2 separate regions of the Homo sapiens genome follow, and region 1 is linked to region 2. Evidence: fine-mapped expression QTL. Tissue or cell type: whole blood. Region 2 holds a variant in brackets; the other region holds the start of a gene. All regions are shown on one strand. Distances are from middle to middle.

Region 1 (8,105 bases), 36 kb after region 2:
AGAGTCTTGCTCTGTGGCTCAGGCTGGAGTGCAGTGGTGCAATCTTGGCTCACTGCAACCTCCACCTCCTGGGTTCAAGTGATTCTCCTGTCTCAGCCTCCCGAGTAGCTGGGATTACAGGCACCCACCACCATGCCCGGCTAATTTTTGTATTTTTAGCACAGATGGAGTTTCCACCACGTTGGCCAGGCTGGTCTCAAACTCTTGACCTCAAGTGACCTGCCCGCCTTGGCCTCCCAAAGTGCTGGAATTACAGGCATGGGCCACCATGCCGGACCCAGCATATATGTTTATCATTCAATATTTGTTGAACAGTAAACATATGAATCGAATAATAATAATCCTAATAATAGCATTATTAATAATAAGAACTAACACTTAATCAGGGATTACTATATGCCATATATTTCTCAAACAGCTTTGCATTTATTAGTTCATTTAATATTCCTATCAACAATTCTCCCCATTTTACAGATGATGAAACCAAGGCTCAAAGAGGTGAAGGATTTTTGAATCCACGTTTCCAGATTTCAAATCCTGAACTTGGACGTGGTTACTTTGAGGGTCAGAGCAGAGGATATAGATAAAAATACATACATGTATTTTATATACATATATACTATTATATAATCAAAAAAATTATTACTATTATTATTATTTTGAGATGGAGTCTTGCTCTGTCACCCAGGCTGGAGTGCAGTGGCTTGATCTTGGCTCACTGCAACCTCCGCCTCCGGGTTCAAGCGATTCTCCTGCCTCAGCCTCCCTAGTAGCTGGGATTACAGGTGTGCACCACCACTCCCCACTAATTTTTGTATTTTTAGTAGAGATGGGGTTTCACCATATTGGCCAGGCTGGTCTCAAACTCCTGACTTCGTGATCCACCCGCCTTGGCCTCCCAAAGTGTTGGGATTACAGGTGTGAGCCACCACTCCCAGACTTAAAAAGATTATTTTTAAAAATAGATACTAGTTATGGAGCTCTTATCCTATGTCAGTCATCATGATAAGGGCTGTTCATGCCTTTTTTTTTTGGTTAATTGCCACAACCCTATGAACAGATGCAGAAACTGAGGCTCAGAGAAGTTAATGACTTGGCCCAGAAGACATAGCCAGTACTATGAAATAAGTTACCCTAACTCTTAGTAAACTACACTGCCACTCTATAGATACAAATTGCCTTCATCATCATTATCAATCAGCACAGAGAATAAGAGGCACTCACCATCAGGGAAATTCAAATCACAACCACAATGAACTACCACTTCACACCCACTAGCATGGCTATAATAAAAAAGACAGACAATCAGCCGGGCGTGGCGGCTCATGCCTGTAATCCCAGCACTTTGGGAGGCCAAGGTGGGCGGATCACTTGAGGTCAGGAGTTTGAGACCAGCCTGGCCTACATGGCGAAACCTCATCTCTACTAAAAATACAAAAATTAGTGAGGAGTGGTGACGCACACCTGTAATCCCAGCTACTCATGAGGCTGAGGCAGGAGAATCGCTTGAACCGGGGAGGTGGAGGTTGCAGTGAGCCAAGATTGCGCCACTGCACTCCAGCCTGGGCAACAGAGCAAGACTTCATCTCAAAGACAAAAACAAAATGACAACAACAAAACCCAAAAAGACAGACGATAACAAGCGTTGGTGAGGATGTGGAGAAATTGGATCCCTCATACTCTGCTGATAGGAATGTAAAAAACTGCAGCTGCTGTGAAATTCAGCTCCACATTCCCCCCAAAGGTGAAACATAGTTAACATATGACCTAGCAATTTTTACTCTTAGGTACATATTCGAGAGAAAGGAGAATATATATCCACATAAAACCTTGTACACAAATGTTCATGTGGCATTATTCATGATAGCCAAAAAAGAGAAACAACCCCAATGTCCATCAATGGATGAATGGATAGAAAAAAGTGGTCTATCCATGCAATGGAGTACTACTCAGCCGTAAAAAGGAATGAAGTATCAGCCGGGTGCAATGGCTCACGCCTGTAATCCTGACACTTTGGGAGGCCGAGGCAGGCAGATCACTTGAGTCCAGGAGTTTGAGACCAGCCTGGACAAAATAGTGAGACCCCGTCTCTTTAAAAAAAAAAATTGAATGAAGTATCAACACATGCTACAACATGGATGAGCATTGAAAACACGCTAAGTGCCACAAAGGACCACATATTATGTGATTCCATTTATATGAAATGTCCAGAATCGGCAAATCCATAGAGGCAGAAAGGAAATTGATGGGTGGGAAGGAGGAGGAACAGTGTTGGAAATGATGGTGAAGGAGTGTGGGATTCCTTTTGAGTCGATTAAAATATTCTAAAATTGATTGTGGGGATGGTTGCACAACTCTGGGAATAATCTGAAAATCATTAAATGGTACCCTTTAAATGGGTCAATTGTATGGTGTATAAATTATATCTCAGTAAGTTTCTTTTAGAAGAAACAAAAACCAAAAAGCAGGGCCTTCCTGACGTTGGTGAGGACCTAAAGTTATAACACATTTTCAAGCCTGGTCCTATTCCTCCCAAGCATGGTGACTCAGATGCCAGCATGATCACCAGGCGTGCCCTGAGATCCTCGCCTCCTCCCTGGGGATCCAGGGTGTTGCCCTGCGCTTTCCTACCTTCCCCAGGCACGCCCTGCCCTGCGCGCCCTGGCGGGCCTGAAGTAGAGCAGAAAGGAATCCCGCTTGTCCTGTGGCTTCTCTCTGCTGCAGCCTGGCACCGTTTCCTCTTGCCTGCTGCTGCTTCCTCCCTCCCGCCCAGCTGGCTGTGAGAGCACGTCTCAGATTCGAAAACCATGTGAGATTCAGAATGTGCACCTGAAGCTGCCCGCTGGGGCTTTCTGTGCTGTCGGCCACTGCAGAGATCTGGGTCCTCCCCAGATCCCACTTACCAAACGTAGGAAAAGATGATCACGTGGAAGAACCACTTAATGGTGCCATAATTCATGCTCTGGATCCGAGTGACTTTGTTCGTCTCATACTGGAAAACATCACTGCAGCTGCAGCAGGCCGGCATGGTGACAGCCTCCCTCCCTGCGCGGAGCTGGACCAGAGCTCTACTCTTCCTGACAGGGCCACAGCAAGCCCCCTCCCAGTAACTGCAAAATGAAACGTACTGGTTTTTAGCAGGAGTCTTTAACTTCAAGCTCCTCCAATGACTGCAGAGTTGGGGCGGGCCCTGGCAGTGGCCCCACATGTGGCTGTGATAAACAAGAAGCGCCAAGTCCTACGGGCCTGGCTGGCAGATGACCTCACCCCAGCTGGCCTCCCCCAGATGCCTACACAAAGATGGTGTTCAGAGGATGGGCATTTTTAGAATTCTCCCTTTTCCCCCCTTTCCTTTCACTTTTTTGGTCTCATGTCTCTTGGGAGAAAGGGGCAGCCTTGCAAATGTCACAAGACTGGGAGCTTCCATTATGCCTCAGAAAAGGACTGAGATCTTTCCATTGCCTGAAGCCCCACTCAGAGATTGATTCATTCATTTCTACAACCCTTTATTCAGCCCCTGATGTATAGGAGCTCTGGGTAAATGAAGATCTCCCCCTCTTCTTCCACCGCCCCTTATAATACTCTGGTCTGCAGTTGGTGGGGGAAATCAGATTTGCAGGGGTAGGGGTGGTGGGGGTGGAGGGGCTTTATTTTTCTGCCAGATCTTTCATGCTTGACCCTCTGAGTTACTCTCCACCCTCCTCTGCACCCCGGCAGGTCGATCTATGACCTAGACCAATCAGCCAAAGATCACCAGGGACACAGTGGCAGTCCAACAAAGTTAGGTTTGTTGACCTATTCAGTGAGGGACACCACCCACCAGAAGAGCTACGCACATCACCAAACAAAGGAAAACAGCAATTTATTATAGGATTCCGAGGAAAGTGGAGTTGAGATAAAATCTAAATGAAGTCATGTTTTGATGGACTCAAAGCAAAACAGGTTTGTACAAAGCAGTCAACTTCAGTCTGGATTGCAAAGAGGACCCAGGGCCCTGTTTCCTAGGAAGCAACATAGCTAAGATACATGTCAAATGTGTCCAGAAAATCTTTATCTGAAGCTCTGCTCCTGAGTTGTAAATTGAGGCTGCTTCTCTGTGTCAAGATGACTTAAATCTTCCAGGCAAAATTGGAATATTTCAGTCTTAGTCATGTAATTTCAAACAGCAAAGTTTCTGAAGGTCTCTGATTTTAAAGGACAATGTTTCAGCAGTCACTCAAAGATGCAGGGTTGTATTATCACTTTACAGCTACAGAGAATTATTGTTCCCTGTTATCTTTACAGCTGGCTTGATCCCTTTCTGTTATTCCAGCCTGCTAAGTGGCCGGGTAGATTTTCAGTTTTTCAGTCTAAACTAATTGTACTTTCTCACACATACAAACTGCATCAGGGTTCCCCTCACCTTCTGGCTTCCAGTTCAGGAGACTGGAGAGCAGTGAGGATGGACGTGACTCCCTGGCCCTGCCCTTCTCAGTTGCATATAGGCAGGGCTTCTGGGCACCACTCCCTCCTTTAGTCCTGGGAGTGGTAAGGGCTCCCCACTCTTACCAGCCCCAGGAAGCTCACTATCTCCTATTGCTTTTTCTTAACTCTGTCCACACCTTTGTAAATGGTTCCATCATTAGTTACCCCACTTGAGTATGCCATTGCTTTCCTGCCGGGAATCTGAGTGATACGGTCATCTTCATCTGTAAAAAGAGGAGATTCACAGGTAAAGCCTGATGCTTAGAACATAGGCTCTAGGGGACTAATGGCCTGGCTTCCGATCCTGGCTTCACATCTTACCAGCTCTGTGACCCTGGACAGCTCTGTTTATGCTATTCATTCACTCATTCCCAAGAGCACCAGGAATAGTAGATATGGCAGTGAACAGGCAGACAAGTCAAATGTCCATCAGCTGATGGATGGATACACAAAAGCACGAAAGCCCATACAAGGGAATATTATTCAGCCATAAAAAGGAATGAAACACTGACCCATGCTCCAACATGGATGAACCTTGAAAACACTACGCTTAAGTGAAAGAGGCCAGACACAAAAGGATACATCTTTTACGACTCCATTTATAGGAAATGTCCAGAATAGGCAAATCACTTCAGTGTTGCTCTTGCTACCACTCAAAGACATCTATTTTCTTGTCTTTCTTTCTTTCTCTTTTCTTTCTTTCTTTTTTTTTTTTTTTTTTTTTTTTTGTTTTTTTGAGATGGAGTCTCCCCCTGTTGCCCAGGCTGTAGTGCAGTGGCAAGACTTTGGGTCACTGCAACCCCTGCCTCCTGGGTTCAAGCGATTCTTGTGCCTCAGCCTCATGAGTATCTGCAATTACAGCCATGCGCACGCTCAGCTGATTTTTGTGTTTTTAGTAGAGATGGGGTTTCACCATGTTGGCTAGGTTGGTCTCGAACTCCTGGTCACAAGCGATCTGCCCGCCTTAGCCTACCAAAGTGTTGGGATTACAGGCGTGAGCCACTACACCCGGCCTGTTTGTTGTCTTTCTGCTGCACTCTTGCACTGGTCCCTCATGCTCTCCCCTCTCCACTCCTTCAGCCCTTGTCCGCTATTTCATCACTGCTACCTCCTCCACTCCATGGATTCTGTTCTCAAAGAGGTTACCAAAGACTTCTCAGTTGCCAGACTGGGTGGATATATTTTATTCCTTATGTTACTTGATCTCTTGGATGCATTCAACATCACTGGCTACTTTCTGCATCTTGGACCAGTATTTTCCCTTGGTTTCCATGACTTTCCTGGGTCCCATGTTCTCCTGGTTTCTCATTTGTACTTCTATGACTCTTTATCTTATCTTTCTTTTTAAAAAATTAATTTAATTAATTTATTTTAGAGACTGGGTCTTGCTCTGTCGTCCAGGCTGGAGTGCAGTGGCGCAATCATGGCTCACTGCAGCTTCAAACTTCTGGGCTCCAGTGATCCCCCTACCACAGCCTCCTGAGTAGCTGGGACCACAGGCACATGCCACCAAGCCTCGTTAATTTTTTTTTTAATTTTGTAGAGATAGGGTCTTGCTATGCTGCCCAGGCTGGTCTCGAACTCCTGGCTTCAAGTGATCCTCCTGACTCAGCCTTCCAAAGTGCTGGGGTTACAGGCATAAGCCACTGCATCCAATCTTTGTCTTATCTTTCTCTGGCTCTCTTCTCCCTGTAAATATCAGTTCCAGCAAATTGTCTCTCAGCACTTCTTATGATTCTATCAGGATAGGACAGGTTATGCTGCAATAACAAAGCACTCTCAGTGTCTCATGGCTTATAGCAGTGATGAATTAATTCTCACTCACACTATATGTCCATCATGGGTCTCCCAGATGGCTCAGCTCTCTGTAATCACTCAGAGATCGAGGCTAACGGAACAGCCATTGTCTTGAACTCTTTAATGAGAACTCTGGAGAGTCTCACAGCAGCAATGAAATGTTCTGACCTCGTGATGGAAGGAATATAAAGTTACCAAAAAAAAAAAAATTGGGGATTGAACGGTGGATTTCTTAGTCTTGTGAGTGTGTGGGTGTGTTTACAATTTACAGAAAATCAAGTGACATTCTTCAGCAGAAAAGGGAGTTTTTTTTTTTGAGGAAACACTTATCTCACAGACTGCAAGTGCAGGAAATGTGCCCAACCTCATGAGAACCTATTAATAGAATCAGAAACCAAACTGTCCTGTGCTGAGGTTGCTCTTTCAGTTTGTCTGAAGCCCGCCTCTGTTTGTCTCTGTGTGCCCATTGCGAGTCTCTCTAAACACTGGCTTCCTCTGTTTCTCCCAGGGCACGTGGTTCAGCAATGCTCTCCAAGTTAGGTTCCACAGTTCAAATGCAAGCCCAGATCCCCTGCCCAGTTCCAGAACTCAAGGGGAATGAATCTGATTGGCCTAATTCTTTATCCCTGGTCCAATCAGCTATGGCTGTGGGCGGGGCCATAATCACACAGGGCGTCAAGGGCCAACCTCCGTTGGGGGAGAAGGGAGGGAGGAAAGAAAGGAAGATGGCGGGAGAGAGAGAGAGAGAGAAGGGGGGTGGGAAGAGAGAGAGAGAGAGGGAGAGAGAGAATGAGAATGTGACTCTCAGAGAATAGAGGCTCCAAGGCTGAGGGACTGCTGGTTAAATACCCGTTCCTCCCCCAGGTGGGACAACTCTGAGACAAGTCTAGGCAGTCTCCAGAGGGCCTGAGGGGGTCTGAGCCCAGATGCCCACAGCCGTGACCTGCTCTTTAATTAATTAATTAGTTTTATTTATTTCCAGTGTCTTGCTCTGTCGCCCAGGCTGGAGTGCAGTGGCACGATCTCGGCTCACTGCAACCTCCGCCTCCCGGGTTCAAGCGATTCTCCTGCCTCAGCCTCGCTAGTAGCTAAGACTACAGGCGCGTGCCACCACTCCCGGCTAATTTTTGTATTTTTAGTAGAGTTGGAGTTTCACTATGTTGCCCTAGCTGGTCTAGAACTGCCGACCTCAGGTGATCCGCCCGCCTCAGCCTCCCAAAGGGCTGGGATTAGAGGTGTGAGCCACTGCGTCCGGCCTCCTGACCTACTCTTTAATGCTTCCTGTGTTGACTGCCTTCCCTTTCCTGTCTCACTTCCCCACTCCTCTTCCTGGGTCGCCTCCCAAACAAACTACTTGGACCTGAATCTCGTCCAGCCTTATGTTCTGGTGTTAAAGAGTCTGTCTGGAATTTACCCTGAGAACAATAGGTGGGTTTATAAACGGGTGTGCATGGTCTCATTTGCAGCTCAGTCAGAGCACTCTAGCTGCACCATGGAAAATGGGCGGAAGGGGCAAGAGTGGAGCCAGGGGTCTGCCCAGGGAGAGGGTAGAGTGACATGGAGGGGGACCGAAGACAGATCCCTGAAGGACACCAACACCAAGGAGACTAAGCTGAGGCAGAGTAGGGAGGAGAGGAAAGCCGAAAGACAGTGAGTCCCCAGAGGCCATGGGGTGAACACTTCACAAATAAACCGGTGACCACGGAGATATTAAGAGCGATGGTAAATCTGTGTAATTAAAGCAGCTCTAGTAAGGGAACTGACAGACACATTATTGGAACAGGGTGGAGTCACGTATTAAACACAAAGATAGGTGCAGACCGGGTGCGGTGGCTCATACCTGT
Region 2 (8,105 bases):
GACTCCATCTCAAAAAAAAAAAAAAAAAGAAAGAAAGAATCACTTGGGGTGAGTGTGTTCAGAGGCAGACTCCTGAGCCCCTCACTCAAAGAGTGGTTGCAGAAGCTCTGAGATGTTTCTAGGAGTCTGTATTTCCAGTACAGGTACCAAGTGATTATTCTGATGCAGGTAGTCAGTGGGCTATGCCCTGAGAAACATCGGGCCTTGAACAAGAGTGTTTTTCGTACACTGGAATGGGTTGAGCCCCCAAATAAGATATGTTCAAGTATCTAATCCCTAGTGGCTGTGATATGACCTTATTTGGAAATACAGTGTTTGCAGATATAATTAAGTTAAACATCTCAAGATGAGATTATCCTGGATTTAGGGTAAGCCCCAAATCCAATGACTAGTATCTTTATAAGATAAAGGAGAGATCAAATCGCTTGAGCCCGGGAGGCAGAGGTTGCAGTGACCCGAAATTACGCCATTGCACTTCAGTCTAGGAGACTGGAGTGAAACCCTGCCTCAAAAAAAAAAAAAAAAAAAAAAGAGATTGAAGACATAGAGACACAGTGGAGAAGGCCATGTGAGGATGGAGGCAGAGATTTGTGGGACGCTGCTATAAAGTTATGGAATGCCTGGAGCCACCAGACGCTGGAAGAGGCAAGAGAGGACCCTCCCGTAGAGCATCAGAGCGAGTGTGGCCCTGCTGACATCTTGATTCCAAACTTCTGGCTTCCAGAACTATAAGAAGATTAATTTCTGTTGTTTTAAGCCACCACATTTGTGGCAATTAGTCATAACAGCCACAGGAAATTAACACAGACACATACTCCTGCTGGGCCTGAGAAGCGCGTCGTGCATTCTGGGTGGCCTGATCCACTTCACACAGGTCGTGCATAAGCGGAATCACCTATTCACTGAATAAGGACATTTCGCCACAGGTCATTTTCTAAACAACAGAATTCTGTAATGTGATCAACTTCTTCAACTTCCTATGTTTTAGAAAGTTATATTTTCTGAAATACCTCGTATAACCTGTAATTTCCTTCTCTTTTGTGTGTCTGCTGGAAAATAACTTGTCCACTTACTCATCAGACCTCAACAATTTATTTATTTATTTAAGTTGTTTTTAAAGACAGAGCTTTGCTCTGTCGCCCAGGCTGGAGTGAAGTGGCATGACCCCGGCTCACTGCAACCTCCACCTTCCGGGTTCAAGCAGTTCTCCCTGCCTCAGCCTCCCAGTAGCTGTATTACAGGCACCTGTCACCACGTCCAGCTAATTTTTGTATTTTTAGGAGAGACAGGGTTTCACCATGTTGGCCAGGCTGGTCTCGAACTCCTGACCTCAGGTGATCCTCCTGCTTCGGCCTCCCAAAGTGTTGGGATTACAGGCATAAGCCACTGCTCCCGGCCCTCAACAATTTATTTTTGGCCAGAGATTTCTTCTGGTGCTCATTCCAGACAACAAATGCTCTACCACTTTGTTCTAAAAGAACATTAACATCATAACTGGCTGAGGCCTTCAGAGGGCTCAGGTCTCTCCAGGAGCAGATGTTTTTGTGCTCAACTCAGTCGCTGGAAGGACACTTGCTGACACCTGATTGGTACACTGCCCCGCATGCTTCTGCTGACAGCTAAAAAAACACCCTGGAAGGGCAGTCAGTCAGGGGACCATTCATCCTGTCCTCTCTTCTTAATGGCCATAAGCCTATTCAGCACAGCGGCAGGGGATGATCAAAAAGTTATCACAATTAGGAGCTGGTTCCATTGCCTTGGATGAAATTCCATTGATCCAGAGGAAGCAAAAAGCATCAGCCCGCCTTTGAGTCAAGGGTTTCAAACTCAAACGTCTACACAGGGGCCAGGCAGATGACAGAAATGAGTGATGTGGGCCAGGTATAAGCACTAAGGAGTGGCGGGGACAGTGATGAACCAGAAAGCCCAGCCCCTTTCTAAATAGGACCACTGATACTCAGCTCCAGCCAGTGGCCACCATGTAAGGGTCTCACTCTGTCACCCAGGCTGGAGTGCAGTGGCACAACCACGGTTCACTGCAGCCTCCACCTCCCAGGTTCAAGCAATCCTCCTGCCTCAGCCTCCTGAGTAGCTGGGACCAGAGGTGCATGCCCCCACACCTGGCTGATGTTTTAAAAATTATTATTTGTAGAGATGGGGTCTCCCTATGTTGCCCAGGCTAGCCTCAAACCCCCGGGTTCAAGTGATCCTCCCACCTTGGCCTCCCAAAGTGCTGGGATTACAGGCATAAGCCACCGCACCTGGCCTGTCTCAAGTTTTAAAACATCATGCAGACCAAAAAACAAAAAAACAGAAACAGAAACACATTTAAGGGGCTGCCTGCCAGTTTATGGAGCTGCTTTGAGTAATATATAAGGAATACTCCATAACACACAGCACATGCAGAACTTTGCATAAGATCTTTTCTACTGAAGACAGTATTTCAAAGCCCACGAGGAGAACTCCCACCCAAGTTACTTCAGATAATAGGTCGGTATGAAAGGAATGATACAGTAGAATGGACAGAAGGAGTAGGATCCTTAAGGTAAGAATGGGACTCACTGGAACAATAATAGATGACTTTGAAAAAGCACCAAATAAAAATCCTAGAAATGAAAATTATAGGCCAGGTGCAGTGGCTTACACCTGCAATCCCAACGCTTTAGGAGGCCAAGGCAGGCGGATTGCTTGAGCCAGGAGTTTGAGACCAGCCTGGGCAATATAGTGAGACCCCGACTCTACAAAAAAATTTTAAAAATTAGCTGGGCATGGTGGCGTGCACCTGTAGTCCTAGCTACTCAGGAGGCTGAGGTGGGAGGATCACTTGGGCCTGGGAGGCAGAGGTTGCAGTGAGCTATAATTGCACCCGGTCCACTCCAACCTGGGTGACAGAGTGAGACTCTGTCTCAGAAAAAAAAATGAAACATTATAACTATAGATATTTTTAAAAATAAAAAGCATATGATAAAATGTTCACAACCTTTGATTCAATAAGTCTAGAAATTTATCCTAAGGAAGTAACCTGGAATTCAAAGAGAAGTTTATGTGCAAAGATGCACACTGTGGTTACTTGTAATAGAAAAACTGGAAGCAACTCAAATATTCAATCATGGAGGCGTAGGTGAGAAAATCATGAGATGGGAAGGAAGGGATGGAGTGTGAGTGTGGGGTCAGAGTGACGTGGGTTAGAATTATGCAACATGTACTATCAGCTGTGGGTCTTGGGCAAATCATCTTCCAGAAACAATATCTTCCTTCCAGGGTTGTTGGGAGATTTAGGGATGGCGACGGGGAGTGCTTGGTATATGGAAAACCCTCCTTGGGCCAGGCACAGTGGCTCATGCCTGTAATCCTAGCACTTTGGGAAGCCAAGGCGGGAAGATCACTTGAGGTCAAGAGTTCGAGACCAGACTGGCCAACACAGTGAAACCCCATCTCTACTGAATATACAAAAATTAGCTGGGTGTGGTGGCACATGCCTGTGGTCCCAGAAACTTGGGAGGTGGGAGGATCGCTTGGACCTAGGAGGCAGAGGTTGCAGTGAGCTGAGATCATGCCACTGCACTCCAGCCTGGGCAAGCAGAGTGTGACTCCATCTAAAAAAAAAAAAGAAAAGAAAAGAAAAGAAAACACTGCCTGAATTGTAGCAGTTGTTATTTGTTCACCTACAAAATGGAATGTTATGATCATTAATGTGATGGTTACAAAGAATTTTGAGTGGCTGTGGTATGAAAAACCCCGCAGAATACCACAAGATATATATATATATGCTATTATCTCATAGGAGCTGTATGAAATAATTGGTACAGATGAGGAAAATTCCCCCGAGGGTTGTTATTGATTATTTCAGGGTAGGGGAATTATGGGTGATTTTGATCCCCCTCTATGCTTTTCTGTTTCCCAATAGTTTTGTTTTATAAACAGTGTGCATCCGCCTATAATCTCAGCTACTTGGGAGGCTGAGGCAGGAGAGTCGCTTGAACCTGGGAGGCGGAAGTTTGCAGTGACTGAGATGGCGCCACTGCACTTCAGCCTGGGTGACAGAGTGAGACTCCATTTCAAAAAAAAAAAAATAAGTAAAAAATAAAGAGTGT[G/A]CATCTCTTTTGAGAATTTTAAAAAATTATGGAAAAAATTCAGTTATCACCTAGTTCTTAGAGAAAGTCTTTTTTCATTCATCTTGTTGCCTTGGAAACCAAAATTAGTCTCACCAGTTCCTGGGAATGCGATTCAGCCACTGGGTGAGTTTGACCTGGGCCTTGGAGTTACCTGAAGTTGTAGCCAGGGTACAAGGACACGTTGGTGGTCTTGTCGTCAAGGCGACGGAAACTGTATTTGGGACGGCAGTGATGGAACCAACGGTCTAGGTTGCAGTCCCAGTAGATCTCAATGCCCATTATTCCGCCCTGAAGGATCAACAAGGGACAGTCTCTATGGCTGCTGGGTGTGAGTTACGCAACCGCCAGACATCTCCCTGCATAGCCAGGATTGCTTAAGGTTTTTAGAGGAAAAATGCTGATTGAAGAACCATATGTACAGCCCCACCTAACTCGCACAAGTGTTATTGTGGCAGCCACAATCGCATCTCCTCACTCTCCCTACCCCCGTCTGGGACACATCACCGTTAAACTCATTGTCCTAAAATACAACTTTCAACAGACCACTCCTGTACCCAAACACCTTTAATGCCCCCCACGCCCCCATTAAAGATCAAGTCCAAACTTATTAGACTGGAATTCAGGGCACTCTATCAAATATCTTTTCTGCTTTACCTCCTAGTACTCCCCTAGGGAAAGCTCTTTGCAGATGCGAATACATGAAGGATTTTTTTTTTTTTTTTTGAGATGGAGTTTCGCTCTTGTCACCTAGGCTGGAGTGCAGTGGTGCGATCTCGGCTCACTGCAACCTCTGCCTCCCAGGTTCAAGCGATTCTCCTGTCTCAGCCTCCCGAGTAGCTGGGATTACAGGAGCCTGCAATCATGCCCGGCTATTTTTTTTTTTTTTTTGTATTTTTAGTAAAGATGGGCTTTCACCATGTTGGCCAGGCTGGTGTTGAACTCCTGACCTCAGGTGATCCACCCACCTCAGCCTCCCAAAGTGCTGGGATTACAGGCATGAGCCACCGTGCCCAGCCTAAATGAAGGATCTTGAGATGGGAGATTATCCTGGATTATCCAGTTGGTCCTTAAATGCCCCCTCTTGTAAATGCTCTCTCTCTTTGTAAGACAGAGGCAAAGGGAGATTGGACACAGGATAGGGAGTGAAAGTGGCCACTGAGGCAAGATGTTATGCTGCTGGCTTTGAAGAAATGCAAGGAATGCAGCTCCAGAAGGTGGAAAAGCTGAGGAACTGGATTCTCCCTTAAAGTCCCGGAGGGAGCACTGCCCTGGCTCAGGGAAAATCATCTCCAACTTCTGATCTCTGGCAACATAAGCAAATATGTGTTCTTTGAAGCCACTAAGCTTTGATAACTTGCTACAGCAGCCACAGGAAAGGAATACACCAAGTAGCTCTCACTCATAAGGATTGTTTTGGGATTTGACGAGGTATGGTAGGTAAAGTCCTTAGCGTAGCGGGTGGATTTACTAAATGCTCAGTAAATGTGAGCCACATTATGAAGACCCAGTGGCCCGGCCTCTTGGCTGTTTGACATCCTCCATCCCTAGACACACAGCCCCACATCCCAGTGTACAAAGCACCACCAACCTGAATTGCCACATCTGAAAAATTATCGCCTGTTTCTCGGAAGATGTCTCCTAGTCGGAAAATGGGACACTGTGGATTCTGAGTCTTGTGGAAGGTACAAGTGATGTTTAAACCTGGCAGGATGTTTCTCCTGTGCATAATTAAAAGCAAACAAACAAACAAACATCTCGATTGAAAACAGATCTGTCTCTTTCCCAGGAGTGAGCCAGTGTGGTGGAGAGGTTCCATGAAAGCCCCAAATGATCACTGCCTCCTGGGACCCCTGGGCAGTGGCCTCTCACACTGGACCAGGGTTGATCTGTGTGACCAATGGCATATGGCAGAAGTGTTGGGGTCTCCCCCCAAAGACTGTGGCTTCCATCTTGGTTATACTCTTGGTTGCTTGCTCTGTCTCTCTTGGGTCACTTGCTCTGGGAGAAGCCAGCCACCATATACCAAGGATACTCAAGTGGTCTAGGGCGAGGTTCACGTGGTGAGGAACTGAGCTCTCCCACGAGCAACTGTGTGAGAGCTTGGAAAAGTGTTCTCCAGCCCCAGTCAAGCCTAGAAATGACTGCAGCCCTGGTTGACAGCTTGGCTACAACCTGACAGACCTTGAGCCAGAACCACGCAGCAAAGTCATTCCCAGATTCCTGACCCACAGAAACCGTGGGAGACAATAGGCGTTTGTTGTTTCAGGCTTCTGAGGTTTGGGATAATTTATTACTCAGCAGTAGATAACTAAGACAGCCAGGCAGCCTGGGCACTTACGTGGTGTAGTTGTGGCCGGGGAAGTCGATATTGTTCTTGATGAGCACAGTGAAGTTTTCGGCACTGTTCAAGAGAGCAGGCCTGGGAGAGAGACATGCAAAATGGCCATTAGTGACGGGGGGAACCGAGGGAGCCCATGGGCCAGTGGGACCAGAGGCTTCTGGTTTCTTGGCTTGGTCTTTGGGATACATGAAGAGAAATGGATACAGCAAACCTAGTGGGCAAAGCATTCTGAAACTCTCCACAAAGCCCCTCCAGCTCCTCCAAGAAGAATTTCTCCCTTCTTGAGATCTGATATGGTTTGGCTCTGTGTCCCCACCCAAATCTCATCTTGAATTGTAATCCCCATGTGCCAGAGGAGGGGCCTGGTGGGAGGTGACTGAATCATGGGGGCGGACTTCCTCCTTGCTGTTCTTGTGATAGTGAGTGAGTTCTCACGAGATCTGATCATTTAAAAGTGTGCGGCACATCCCCCGAAACCCGCCTCCTGCTCCATCATGGTAAGATGTGTTTGCTTCCCCTTCGCCTTCTGCCATGATTGTAAGTCTCCTGAGGCTTCCTGTTAAGCCTGTGGAGCTGTGAGTCAATTAAACCTCTTTTTTTTCGTAAAGTATTTGGTCTCAGGTAGTTCTTTATTTTTATTTTTATTTTTTTCTGAGATGGAGTCTCACTCTGTCACCCAGGCTGGAGTGCAGTGGCGCGATCTTGGGTCACTGCAACCTCCACCTCCCGGGTTCAAGCGACTCTCCTGCCTCAGCCTCCCGAGTAGCCGGGATTACAGGCGTGTGCCACCACACCTGGCTAATTTATGCATTTTTTAGTAGAGATGGGGTTTCACCATGTTTGCCAGGCTGGTATCGAACTCCTGACCTCAAGTGATCCGCCTGCCTCAGCCTGCCAAAGTGTTGGGATTACAGGCGTGAGCCACCGCACCTGGCTAGGTAGTTCTTTGTGTGAGAATGGACTAACACAAGACCCAGTGGCATTTACTGTGGCACCTCTCACAGTGATGTAATTACACATTCAGGTATGTACAGTGGTTGAGACTTGCTCCGTATCTGGGACTTGTATTTTACCTAAAACTTAGCAAAGTCTCTTATGCGTAGTTACGTATGAAATAAATATCTAACACCTACTACGTGGTGATGGATGTGTTGAATGAATGATTAAACGAACCATCTTAGCTAATTCATATAATATATGAGAAACTGAAGTTCAGGGAGTTGCTTGCCCAGGTCACGTCAAAATCCAGCCCAGAGGCAGGCACACTGGAGATGCAGTTTATTTAATGAGTGAGTTGATAGCAGAGCTGGAACTGAAACTGCAGTCAGTCAAGGGCCGCTTGTCTTGAACAAGGACTACCTGAGTGGAGGCTGCTGTATCTCCCAGAGCTGGGTGATTCCTTCTGTGACAAAGAAATGCCCCTGACCGAGAAATGAACCTGAGTGGAGCTATTAGCGATTGAGAATCATAAGGGGTGATGCTGCTGAGCGCACCCCCCATCCCGGCATTGGGAAACCTTCGCCTGAGCCTTCTACAGGCCAGCTTGGGGCAGTTTTCTCTTTGCCCCACGATGCTGAGGGAATGATCCTGAATCACATCGGTCTAGAACTGCGCTGTCCAATATGGTAGCCACTAGACATGTGTGGCTA

What was found. PIP is the estimated chance that this variant, and not a neighbour inherited with it, causes the effect.
Region 1: it holds the start of P2RX7, and the variant in region 2 is fine-mapped to the expression of P2RX7 in whole blood (INTERVAL, PIP above 0.99).

Annotation. Positions count from the first base shown.
Region 1 is chr12:121,127,894-121,135,998 of GRCh38, reverse strand. P2RX7 (purinergic receptor P2X 7) reads right to left here and starts at 3,123. Exons shown (of 13, transcript NM_002562.6): 1 at 2,904-3,123. The coding sequence starts at 3,028. The region is part of intron 2 of LOC105370032 (a long non-coding RNA gene); the gene reads left to right. RefSeq lists an enhancer at 6,719-7,013.
Region 2 is chr12:121,163,786-121,171,890 of GRCh38, reverse strand. It overlaps P2RX7 (purinergic receptor P2X 7), which reads right to left. Exons shown (of 13, transcript NM_002562.6): 6 at 6,454-6,534; 7 at 5,704-5,833; 8 at 4,267-4,403. The region is part of intron 2 of LOC105370032 (a long non-coding RNA gene); the gene reads left to right. Among named protein-coding and RNA genes, the nearest start is that of P2RX7, 35 kb to the right of the region's middle. The variant G/A (reference allele first, on the strand shown) is at 4,095.